Regions from separate parts of the Homo sapiens genome. Here region 2 is linked to region 1. A link means that fine-mapping ties the variant in region 1 to the expression of a gene that starts in the linked region. Tissue or cell type: whole blood. Region 1 holds a variant in brackets; the other region holds the start of a gene. All regions are shown on one strand. Distances are from middle to middle.

Region 1 (5,222 bases):
CTGGCCTTAAGCGATCCTCCCACCTCAGCCTCCCAAAATGCTGGGATTACAGGCATGAGCCACCATGCCCAGCTTCTGGGAAAGCATGTTAGACCGAGTGGTCAGGGAAGGCCTCTCTGAAAAGGTGACATTGGAGCTGACACCTGGAGGCAGAGGCTGAGCCATCATGGGCAGAGCTGGGGAGGATTCCGGGCAGAGGGAGCAGGAAGTGTGAGGACCAGAGGTGGGAGAGAGCCGGGCAGGGTGGCCAGGCCCGCCGAGGAAGAGTCTGGAGGCCCGAGTCCTTCCTCCCCTAGAACAGCAGCCACAGCTTCCACTACGACCTTCCTCCTGCTCCTCATCCAAATTGTGATTCCCCCGGGGGCCTCAGGAAGGGACAGGGCTGTGGTCTACCTCCCCCAGGGAACAGAGCCATGACTGGGAGGGATGCTGCAGATGGCAACTTTTGCAACCACCTTCTTGGGTTCCAGGACTGGATTTTCCACGTCTTGTCTCAGGAGCGGGACCAAAGCACCAATATCACCCTGAGCAGGTGAGCCTGAGCCTGGGCGGGGCTGGGGAAGACAGGGAAGGGGTCCAGAAACTCGGGGCAGGAGTTTGGACACAGGACAGCTCCTCAGACACATTCTCACATGGGTCAGACCGAGGAGCAAGTCTTGAGGAGGAGGCACTAGGAGTGAGAGAGAGGAAAGGCAGCCAAGGGGACTCTGAGTCTACCACCTGCTAAGGAGAAGCCTGTGCTTCCCTCTGTCACTGTGCATCCAACCAGCCATCCATTCATCCTCCATCATCCACCCACGCGCCCAGCCATCCTCCACTCATTCATCCTCCATTCTCCCACCCAGCCATCCTCCACCCATTCATCCCTCCATCATCCACCCACACACCCAGCCATCCTCCACTCATTCATCCTCCATTCTCCCACCCACGCAGCCAGCCATCCTCCACCCATTCATCCCTCCATCATCCACCTCTCCATTCTCCCACCCACGCACCCAGCCATCCTCCGTTTATTCATGGATCTCTCCATCCATTCAACACAAACACTAGTTGAGCACAAGAAAGACACACAGTCCAAGCTAGCAGGAGTCTAGGGGGCAAACATATGTAAAAAGGGCTCAAGGAGAGGAGGGTCTGTACAAGCCCCCTACTCTAGGAGTACAGCAGGGAAGGAGCCTCAGTCTGCCTGAGAGATAAGGGAGGTCTGCGTAGGGAGGTGGCTTTGAGTGAACTCTCCAAGGAGGAGTAAGTGCTGTTCAGATAAGAAGAGGTACCAATGTCCAGGCAGAAGACAAAGCTGGAAAGCCTGGAGGCACGAGACAGCACAGCCTGAGGACGATCAGGTGGGAGGGGATGCCCACACAGCCACCCTTCTCTGTCCCAGGTGCAGTGAAGGCGCTCAAGGCTCAGTGAAGAGCTCTGTGCGGAGTCACTCCGTATAGCCCAGGCCACCCTGATGGCACAAAGTGGGGAGCTCAGAGCAGATCTTTGGGGCTGTCCCAGGCCAGAGTGTCCTGTAGGGAACTGGTAGTCAGGGGATGGAGAAAGGGGGCCATAGGATGGGTGCTGGGCAGAGATGCCCAGAAGGGCCGGGAAGGGCTGCACTTGCAGTTCTCGTTTGGACCTCCCCACTCACGGGGGCACGCATGAGAGAAGCTCAGGACAGAGGAGGGCTGGGGCGGCCATCCCTGGCTGCCTTCCTGTGTGCATGTGTGCACGGGTGTGTGGGTACATGTGTGTGCATACATGTGGGTGTGTGCACGTGCATGTGTGTGCATGTGTCTATGTGCGTGTGTGTGTGTCTGTCTGTTTGGAAGGGGGATACATTAGTCCCGGCCCTTCTCGCTGCCTCCTGCAGGAAGGGAATTGTCAAGCTCAACATCTACTTCCAAGAATTTAACTATCGCACCATTGAAGAATCAGCAGCCAATAACGTGAGTTTAGGAGTCTCCCAATACCCCAGCCCTGCCCTGCCCTGACCCCTGCACCCTGAGGGTGGGGGAAGGGTTCTGAGCCCTATGAAGGAATTAGGAAGATCCCTAAGACAGTCCCAAGTTATTCCCCTGGGCCAAGATGGTCACCCCCTCCCGTTCCCACCCAAGAATCACCTCCCAGGAAGCTGTGAGGCTGGGCTAGAGGCAAGAATGTGTGGCCTGAGCTCACCCCAG[C/T]TCCCTGTTCCCCACAGATCGTCTGGCTGCTCTCGAATCTGGGTGGCCAGTTTGGCTTCTGGATGGGGGGCTCTGTGCTGTGCCTCATCGAGTTTGGGGAGATCATCATCGACTTTGTGTGGATCACCATCATCAAGCTGGTGGCCTTGGCCAAGAGCCTACGGCAGCGGCGAGCCCAAGCCAGCTACGCTGGCCCACCGCCCACCGTGGCCGAGCTGGTGGAGGCCCACACCAACTTTGGCTTCCAGCCTGACACGGCCCCCCGCAGCCCCAACACTGGGCCCTACCCCAGTGAGCAGGCCCTGCCCATCCCAGGCACCCCGCCCCCCAACTATGACTCCCTGCGTCTGCAGCCGCTGGACGTCATCGAGTCTGACAGTGAGGGTGATGCCATCTAACCCTGCCCCTGCCCACCCCGGGCGGCTGAAACTCACTGAGCAGCCAAGACTGTTGCCCGAGGCCTCACTGTATGGTGCCCTCTCCAAAGGGTCGGGAGGGTAGCTCTCCAGGCCAGAGCTTGTGTCCTTCAACAGAGAGGCCAGCGGCAACTGGTCCGTTACTGGCCAAGGGCTCTGTAGAATCACGGTGCTGGTACAGGATGCAGGAATAAATTGTATCTTCACCTGGTTCCTACCCTCGTCCCTACCTGTCCTGATCCTGGTCCTGAAGACCCCTCGGAACACCCTCTCCTGGTGGCAGGCCACTTCCCTCCCAGTGCCAGTCTCCATCCACCCCAGAGAGGAACAGGCGGGTGGGCCATGTGGTTTTCTCCTTCCTGGCCTTGGCTGGCCTCTGGGGCAGGGGTGGTGGAGAGATGGAAGGGCATCAGGTGTAGGGACCCTGCCAAGTGGCACCTGATTTACTCTAGAAAATAAAAGTAGAAAATACTGAGTCCAGCTGTGTTGTTTGTTTGACTGGGCAGCCGAGGTGCCCTGATGGCGGAAGGGCATCCATAGTGGCTTGAGACCCAAACTGGTTTAAGGGAAAGGCTCTCAAGCCCCTCCTTCCACTGCCAGCTCCCAGGCTGACACTCACTGATCCCTGCCTGGGTTGTGTACCCATCTCTGACCCAGTCAGTGTGGCCAGTTAGATAAGCTGCTCTGACTGGTCACACCTGAATTCATCTGCCCAGACCTGAAGCCAGTTTGGCCCCCAGGAGAATCACATGGTCCAAGGGCGGTGGGGGCACAGTACCCACGGTTGCCAGATAACAATCAGGCTGCTTGGTTGAATTTGAATTTCAGATAGACAAACTGATTTTTTTTTTTTTTGAGATGGAGTCTCACTGTCATTGCCCAGGCTGGAGTGCAGTGGCACGATCTTGGCTCACTGTAACCTCTGCCTCCTGGGTTCAAGTGATTCTCATGCCTTGGCCTCGCGAGTAGCTGGAATTACAGGTGCATGCCACCACGCCCAGCTAATTTTCATATTTTTAATAGAGACGGGGTTTCACCATGTTGGCCGGGCTGGTCTCAAGCTCCTGGCCTCAGGCGATCCACCTGCCTCAGCCTCTCAAAGTGGTGGGATTACAGGCATGAGTCACCGACCCCAGCCGAAAAACTGATTTTTTTAGTATATGTACATCCATGCAATACTAGAGACACATACAAATAAATCATTTGTTGTTTTTTTTGAGCATTTTATACATATATATTTTTATAGAGATGGGGTGTCACTGTGTTGCCCAGGTGGGAGTGCAATGGCATGATCATAGCTCACCGTAGCCTCAAACTCCTGGGCTCAAGCCATCCTCCCACTTCAGCCTCCCAAGCAGCTGGAATTACAGGTGTGCACTACCATGCCTGGCTAATTTTTTTTAATTAAAATTTAATTTTAATTTTTTTCATTCTGTATTTTTAATTGCTAAATACCGTCCCCCAAAAGCTTAAGGTACCCAAAGAGAGATCAGGGAGCTGTCACCAGAGTACGGTCTGGCAGGTGCACACACAGCACTGCAGCACCCTGCTGTCACCTACCGGGCCCCTGGTGATGAAGGAGAGGCTGGCTTAGAGCCTGAGCCTCTGAGGGCCCAGCCTTCCTGGCCTAGGTCACCTGTGTCCCTTGGTCTGGAAGGTAAACAAGCTGGCCTCCCATCAAGTGCTCAGGATGGCACCTGTGGAAGAAGGAGGTGCCACAGAGTCGGTGCCACTTCAGTCAAAGGCAACGTTGCTAGGGGCTGAGTAGGGAGGGCTGAGTAGGAAACCGGGTTTCCCAGCTTGGGGCCTGGCTAGCTCGCAGGCTGGGCCCACAACTCTTGGTGGTTACCACCCTTACTACTTACTGTGTGATTACCGCTGTGATTACTTACTACTGTGATTACCGCTTTTATTACTAGCAGTAGTAGTTGTGGCCACAATCACTGTTACCATTTGTTGTTATTAAACAAGGACTACATTGGATCAAGTACTTATCATATGCCAGGCACTATGCCAGTAACTTTTTAAATTTTATTTCATTCTCATAACCACTGAGAAATAGTATAATAGCATCCCATTGCACAGGTAAGAACACTGAGGCTTAAGAGGTGAAGTAAGGTACTCGAGGTTTTTAAGTGACAAAGCTGAGACCCCAGCCTCACCCTCTGGGTGCCAATGGTCATAACAATACCAGTCCCTTACGGGAGCCCAGAGCTTTCATATTTATTATCTTATTTGAAGCTATGGGGCATTATTATCTAGCCCGCGTGACAGCTCTTCAGTTACATGTCAATTTGAACAGGCTTAAGCTACAAAGGGAATTCATTAGCTCTTGTAGTAAAAGGGTTTCAGGCATGGCTGTATGCAGGGGCTCGCCTAGGTCTGGGGTTTCTTTTTTCTTTTTTTTTGAGATGGAGTTTTGCTCATTGCCCAGGCTGGCATGCAATGGCGCTATCTCGGCTCACTGCAACCTCCCCGTCCTGGGTTCAAGCGATTCTCCTGCCTCAGCTTCCCAAGTAGCTGAGATTACAGCCGCCCACCACCACATCTGGCTAATTTTTATATTTTGATAGAGATGGGATGTCACTATGTTGGCCAGGCTGGTCTCGAACTCCTGACCCCAGGTGATCCACCCACC
Region 2 (5,000 bases), 130 kb after region 1:
AATAAAAATACATTTAAAAAAAGCTAGAACTGGGGAGGCTGATGTGGGAAAAATGCTTGAGCCCAGGAGAGGGGTAAGCTGCAGTGAGCTGAGATCATGCCGCTGCACTCCAGCCTGGGTGACACAGTGAGACTCTGTTTCAAAAAAAGCTGGAGTTGAAGAACTGTGTCCTTGGGCAGCCTCAGTTCCAGGCACTCCTTTTATCTCCTCCACCTGAGGCAGCTACTTTCTCTTACTCCGGCTACTTTTTTTTTTTTTTTTTGAGACAGAATCTCGCCTTGTCACCTAGGCTGGAGTGCAGCGGTGCAATCTTGGCTCCACCTCCACAACCTCTGCCCCAAGGGTTCAAGTGATCCTCCCACCTCGGCCTCCCAAGTAGCTGGAATTACAGGTGTGCGCCACCACACATGGCTATTTTTTGTATTTTAGTAGAGACGGGGTTTCACCATGTTGGCCAGGCTGGTCTTAAACTCCTGGCCTCAAAGGATTGGCCCACCTCAGCCTCCCAAAGTGCTGCGATTACAGGCATGAACAGCCTTTTTTTCTAATTTTTGCAACTCCAGTCTAAGCCTTCTGTTCTCCATTGCCTCCTAAAACTACTACCTTCTGTCTCTACTGTTTAACTCAAGGATGTCTCATTAAATAACTGGTTGGTTACCAAATTCAAAGTTCTCTCTTCTCCTTCCTCATTCTCCTCCATCTTTAAGGAGCAAAACTACGTTACAACCACATCCCTCCTTTGCTATCAGTGGGTGCCCCTGCAGGTCTCCCCCTGCCTGTTTCTGCTCAGCCTTCAGTCTTCTCTTCCCATCTGCCTCTTCAATGCTGGGGCTCCCCACGCTCTCTTTCCAAACCTCTGCTCTTAATATACGCAAGCTTCTCCCGCAAGCTCACTGCCAATGAACCAGACTCCCAAACCGTACGTCCCACACTTGCCCTCTCCAGTGCCAACCAGCTGCCTAGAGGGCATCTCTTTTTTGACTATGCCACAAGCACCTCAAACTCCACATCTCAACCTTCTCTGCCTAAACCAGCTCCTCCTCACAGGGGAGGCATCTGTAACCCACCAGTTCCTCGAGCCTGAAACCCGCGATCTAGCCTAGATTTCTCCTTGTCCCCTGTCTGCATTCCAAGGCACCGAGGCTGCTGACTACGCCTGCTCATTGCTTCTCCCTCTCCCCACTGCCTTAGTCCTCCTGCGGCCCCCAACCACCACCAAAAGAGCTTTTTAGCCGCTCTCCCTGCCTGAAGTCTCACCCTCTCCGCCCAATTTAGCACCATATGGCTGCAAGTGACGCCTTTAACAGGCTTCCTTGATCAGATTCTCCGGCTGAAAACTCCCAAACAGCAACCCCGCCCTCGGATAAAACATAAACTCCTTTCTGCAGCACACAAGGCTCTTGAAGATCTCGCCCCAATTAGCCGTGCAGCCCCTTTCCCGGATTCCTGAGCTTTAGGCTTGCACTCCAGCGGACTGACCTACTTGTTCCCGGAGTGCTCCACATTCTCTTGTCCCCAGCTTTTGCACACGCAGTTTCTTCTGCCTGGAATGCGGTCGGCTGTGACGACCCCCAGGTAAACCAACTCCTACCACCACAGGTGAAACGAACGCCCTCCTCCTCCTCGCCAATCCCGTTAGTAAGGTGATGTGACTGCCGGCTTGTACCCACTAAAAAATGTTTTGGTGAGCAAGGACCCTGTGTTATGCATCTCAGTGTTCCTGGCACCTAGCAGAGCTGGGTACAAGGGGAATATTCTTTATCCCCTTTGAACCTCAATCCCTCATTGGTAAAACGGAGATAATAATAACCCCTAAGATGACTGTGAAGCTTACAGGAGACATGCAGAAGAATTCTGGCCAAAGGGTTTGAGCCCAACCAGGGTAACATAATGAGACCCCGTCTCTTAAAGGAAAAAAAAAACACACATATATATATATACGCACACACACACACACGTGTGTGTGTGTTTAAAAAAAAAAGTCTGGCCAAAGTAAACACAAAAGGTAAAAAATTTCTTTTTGACGCGGTAGCCAGATAGAGATCTTTCTCAGCCCCAAACAGACTGCATGTCTTGCACGACTGCGTCTCCTTAAGCCTCAAGGTCCCCGCTTCCGTAGTGGGGTTAATAATAGAAGCCAGCTCGGGGTGGGAATGAGGATTAAGCAGGACTAAGCCGCTGTGAGCACAGTGCCTGGCGCAGGGGAAAGCGCAGGTCACGTAGCCATTGGGGTGGGGGTCGGGGTCCTGTGCTGCTGCTAAGTTGGGGGGTGGGCGGAGGGGGAGGGGCAGAGCTCAGAAGGGGGCCGCTGCCCCGGCGGATGCTTGGGGCTCCTCTCGGGGGACCCCTGGGCGATCTTCCCCACCGCGCCGGGCCCAGGCCCCCTACCCGGCCGCCGGCCTCCCCTGCGGCCGCCCGCCCCGAAGCAAGGCCCCGGGAGGCGGGAAGCGAGGCCTCACGTGCGGCGCAGCGGCTGCGCCGAAGGCCTGCCAGGCTACTCACTGAGCCACAGCTCCAGCGACGCTGCCGGGCCCGGGGGACCCTGGGCCGACTCGGTTCCCGCCACAGCCGCCGCCACCGCGGTCGCCGCCATCGCTCCAGCCCCGACGCTGCGGCCGCGGGCGCCACTGCCTCTTCAGCCGCTGTAGCGTCCTGGCGCTCTCCTCTGCTGACTGCGCGGCAGGAGCGGTGGACACGTGACGGGGCGGGGCCGCTGGCGCCACGCCCACCCCAGGCCCCCCCTCCACGCGGGACCGGCCGGAACATTTCTTAGTCCAGATCCCTCCACCCAGCGCTGGTCTTCTAAGACCACTCACCGTACGGTTGCCAGATAAAATACAAGACGCCCAGTTAAATTTGATTTTCAGAAGAACACGAATAATTCTTTTAGCATTTTTATTTTTTAAGAGACGGGGTCTTGCTCTGTCACTCAGGCTGGAGTCCAATGGCGCGATCACGGCTCACTGCAGCCTCCACCTCCTAGGCTCAAGCGATCCTCCCGCTTCAGTCTCCGGAGGAGCTGGGACTAGGGGAGGGCACCACCACGCCTGGCGTGTGTGTGTGTGTGTGTTAGAGACTGGGTTTCACCGTGTGTGTGTGTGTGTGTGTGTGTGTGTGTGTGTGTGTGTGTTAGAGACTGGGTTTCACCATGTTGCCCGGGTGGTCTCGAACTCCTGGTGTTAGAGACTGGGTTTCACCGTGTGTGTGTGTGTGTGTGTGTGTGTGTGTGTGTTAGAGACTGGGTTTCACCATGTTGCCCGGGTGGTCTCGAACTCCTGGGCTACAAGATCCTCTTACCTCGACTTCCCAAAGTGCTTGCATTTATTTTTTATTTTTCTTTTTTTCTTTTTTTGAGACGGAGTCTCACTCTGTCGCCTAGGCTGGAGTGCAGGGGTGCCATCTCGGCTCACTGCAACCTCCACTTCCTGGGTTCAAGCGATTCTCCTGCCTCAGCGTCCCGAGTAGCTGGGACTACAGGTGCATGCCACCACACCCAGCTATTTTTTTTTTTTTTGTATTTTTAGTAGAAACGAGGGTTCACTATGTTGGCCAGGCTGGTCTCGAACTCCTGACCTCGTGATCTGCCCGCTTCGCCCTCCCAAAGTGCTGGGATTACAGGGGTGAGCCACCACGCCCGGCCTATGTGCTTGCATTTTTATTCACAGAAGGGTTTTCCTGGAACACTTTTTTTTTTTTTCAGATGGAGTCTCGCTCTGTCGCCCAGGCTGGAGTGCAGTGGTGCTATCTCGGCTCATTGCAACCTCCACCTCCCTGGTTTCCTGGAACACTTCTAAACTAACATGTCCTGCATTCCTCAATACTCTGCTTTATTTTCTGCATCACACAGTACACCATCGATGTATTATTTACTTGCTTATTCTGTTAAAAGATAATTTTCCCAAAAAAGTATGTCATGATTATCATAATTATGAAATGAATACGTGTTAAATATTTTATTTAATTACATGAGGGAACCAAGCAGATGTTATAATCAATCCAAAAGTGAAGTCAAAGAAGGGCAAATTTATCTGGAAAAAAAGGAAGATAAGACGAATGTGCAAATGGAGGCAAAACTGGCTTTTCGACCGGGGTGAGAGCTGTCCCTCCAGTGAGCGGAATTTACCTATTTATAGGCAAGAATTATTTTGCATTGGTATCAACTTAACAGAGTTATGAGACTTCTCAAAGACAAAGAAAGGCTAGAACCTGGAAGGTTGTGCTGTCTAGACAACACATAATTTTCCATTGAAGCTGTTGTGCCGTACCCCTATTAACTTCAGTAGGGATGGCACCATGTTTGAAAGGCGGAAGAAGAGACCCAGAGCCACTGAATGAGGCAGGTTTACTGAGGGGACTTACGGGGTGGTCTAGTGGCAGTGGGCTGGACAGGAGGACCACTACCATTTGTAAAGAGCATCAGTTTATATAGTATTTTCAACTAGCACCCTTCCCCTAGCAACCTCCATCTGGCAACCTCAATTTAACCCCAAAGGGCCTTGATCCCCCGTATGGCCTGCGTTCCACAGGATGGGGCCAAGGGTTCAGATGTTCCTCTTAGATAAAGAGTGAACCTCTGGGCTGGCCACTCTGTGATTCTGTAGCTTGGAACTCAGAACACACATTCTTCTTAGACCATAGGTACGTATGCCATACAGAAGCACAAATTCTTCCTTGTAGATAACTGAATAGCAATGGGTGATGATTCTTGTCCACACACAAGCAAATGAATACTGTTCTGGGAACACACAGACTTCTTGTGGAAAAACCAGTTCTGCCCCCACTTGCACATCCATTTCAACATTCCTGATCTATACATGATGTCCATTCTTTGGACTGGTTTGAACATCTCACCAGTTTCCTCATTAAGGAGTTAAAGAAAATCTTTTTTTTTTTTTTTTTTTTTTTTTTTTGAGTCTCGCTCTGTTGCCCAGGCTGGAGTGCAATGGTGCAATCTCAGTTCACTGCAACCTCTGCCTCCTGGGTTCAAGTGATTCCCCTGC

The links. PIP is the estimated chance that this variant, and not a neighbour inherited with it, causes the effect.
Region 2: GGA2 starts here. The variant in region 1 is fine-mapped to the expression of GGA2 in whole blood (TOPMed, PIP above 0.99).

Annotation. Positions count from the first base shown.
Region 1 is chr16:23,378,236-23,383,457 of GRCh38, forward strand. It overlaps SCNN1B (sodium channel epithelial 1 subunit beta), which reads left to right. Exons shown (of 13, transcript NM_000336.3): 11 at 471-532; 12 at 1,859-1,934; 13 at 2,186-3,059. The coding sequence ends at 2,566. Among named protein-coding and RNA genes, the nearest start is that of COG7, 72 kb to the right of the region's middle. RefSeq lists an enhancer at 1,823-2,324. The variant C/T (reference allele first, on the strand shown) is at 2,169.
Region 2 is chr16:23,507,819-23,512,818 of GRCh38, forward strand. GGA2 (golgi associated, gamma adaptin ear containing, ARF binding protein 2) reads right to left here and starts at 2,676. Exons shown (of 17, transcript NM_015044.4): 1 at 2,503-2,676. The coding sequence starts at 2,593. RefSeq lists silencers at 2,363-2,532, 2,603-2,832, 2,903-2,952.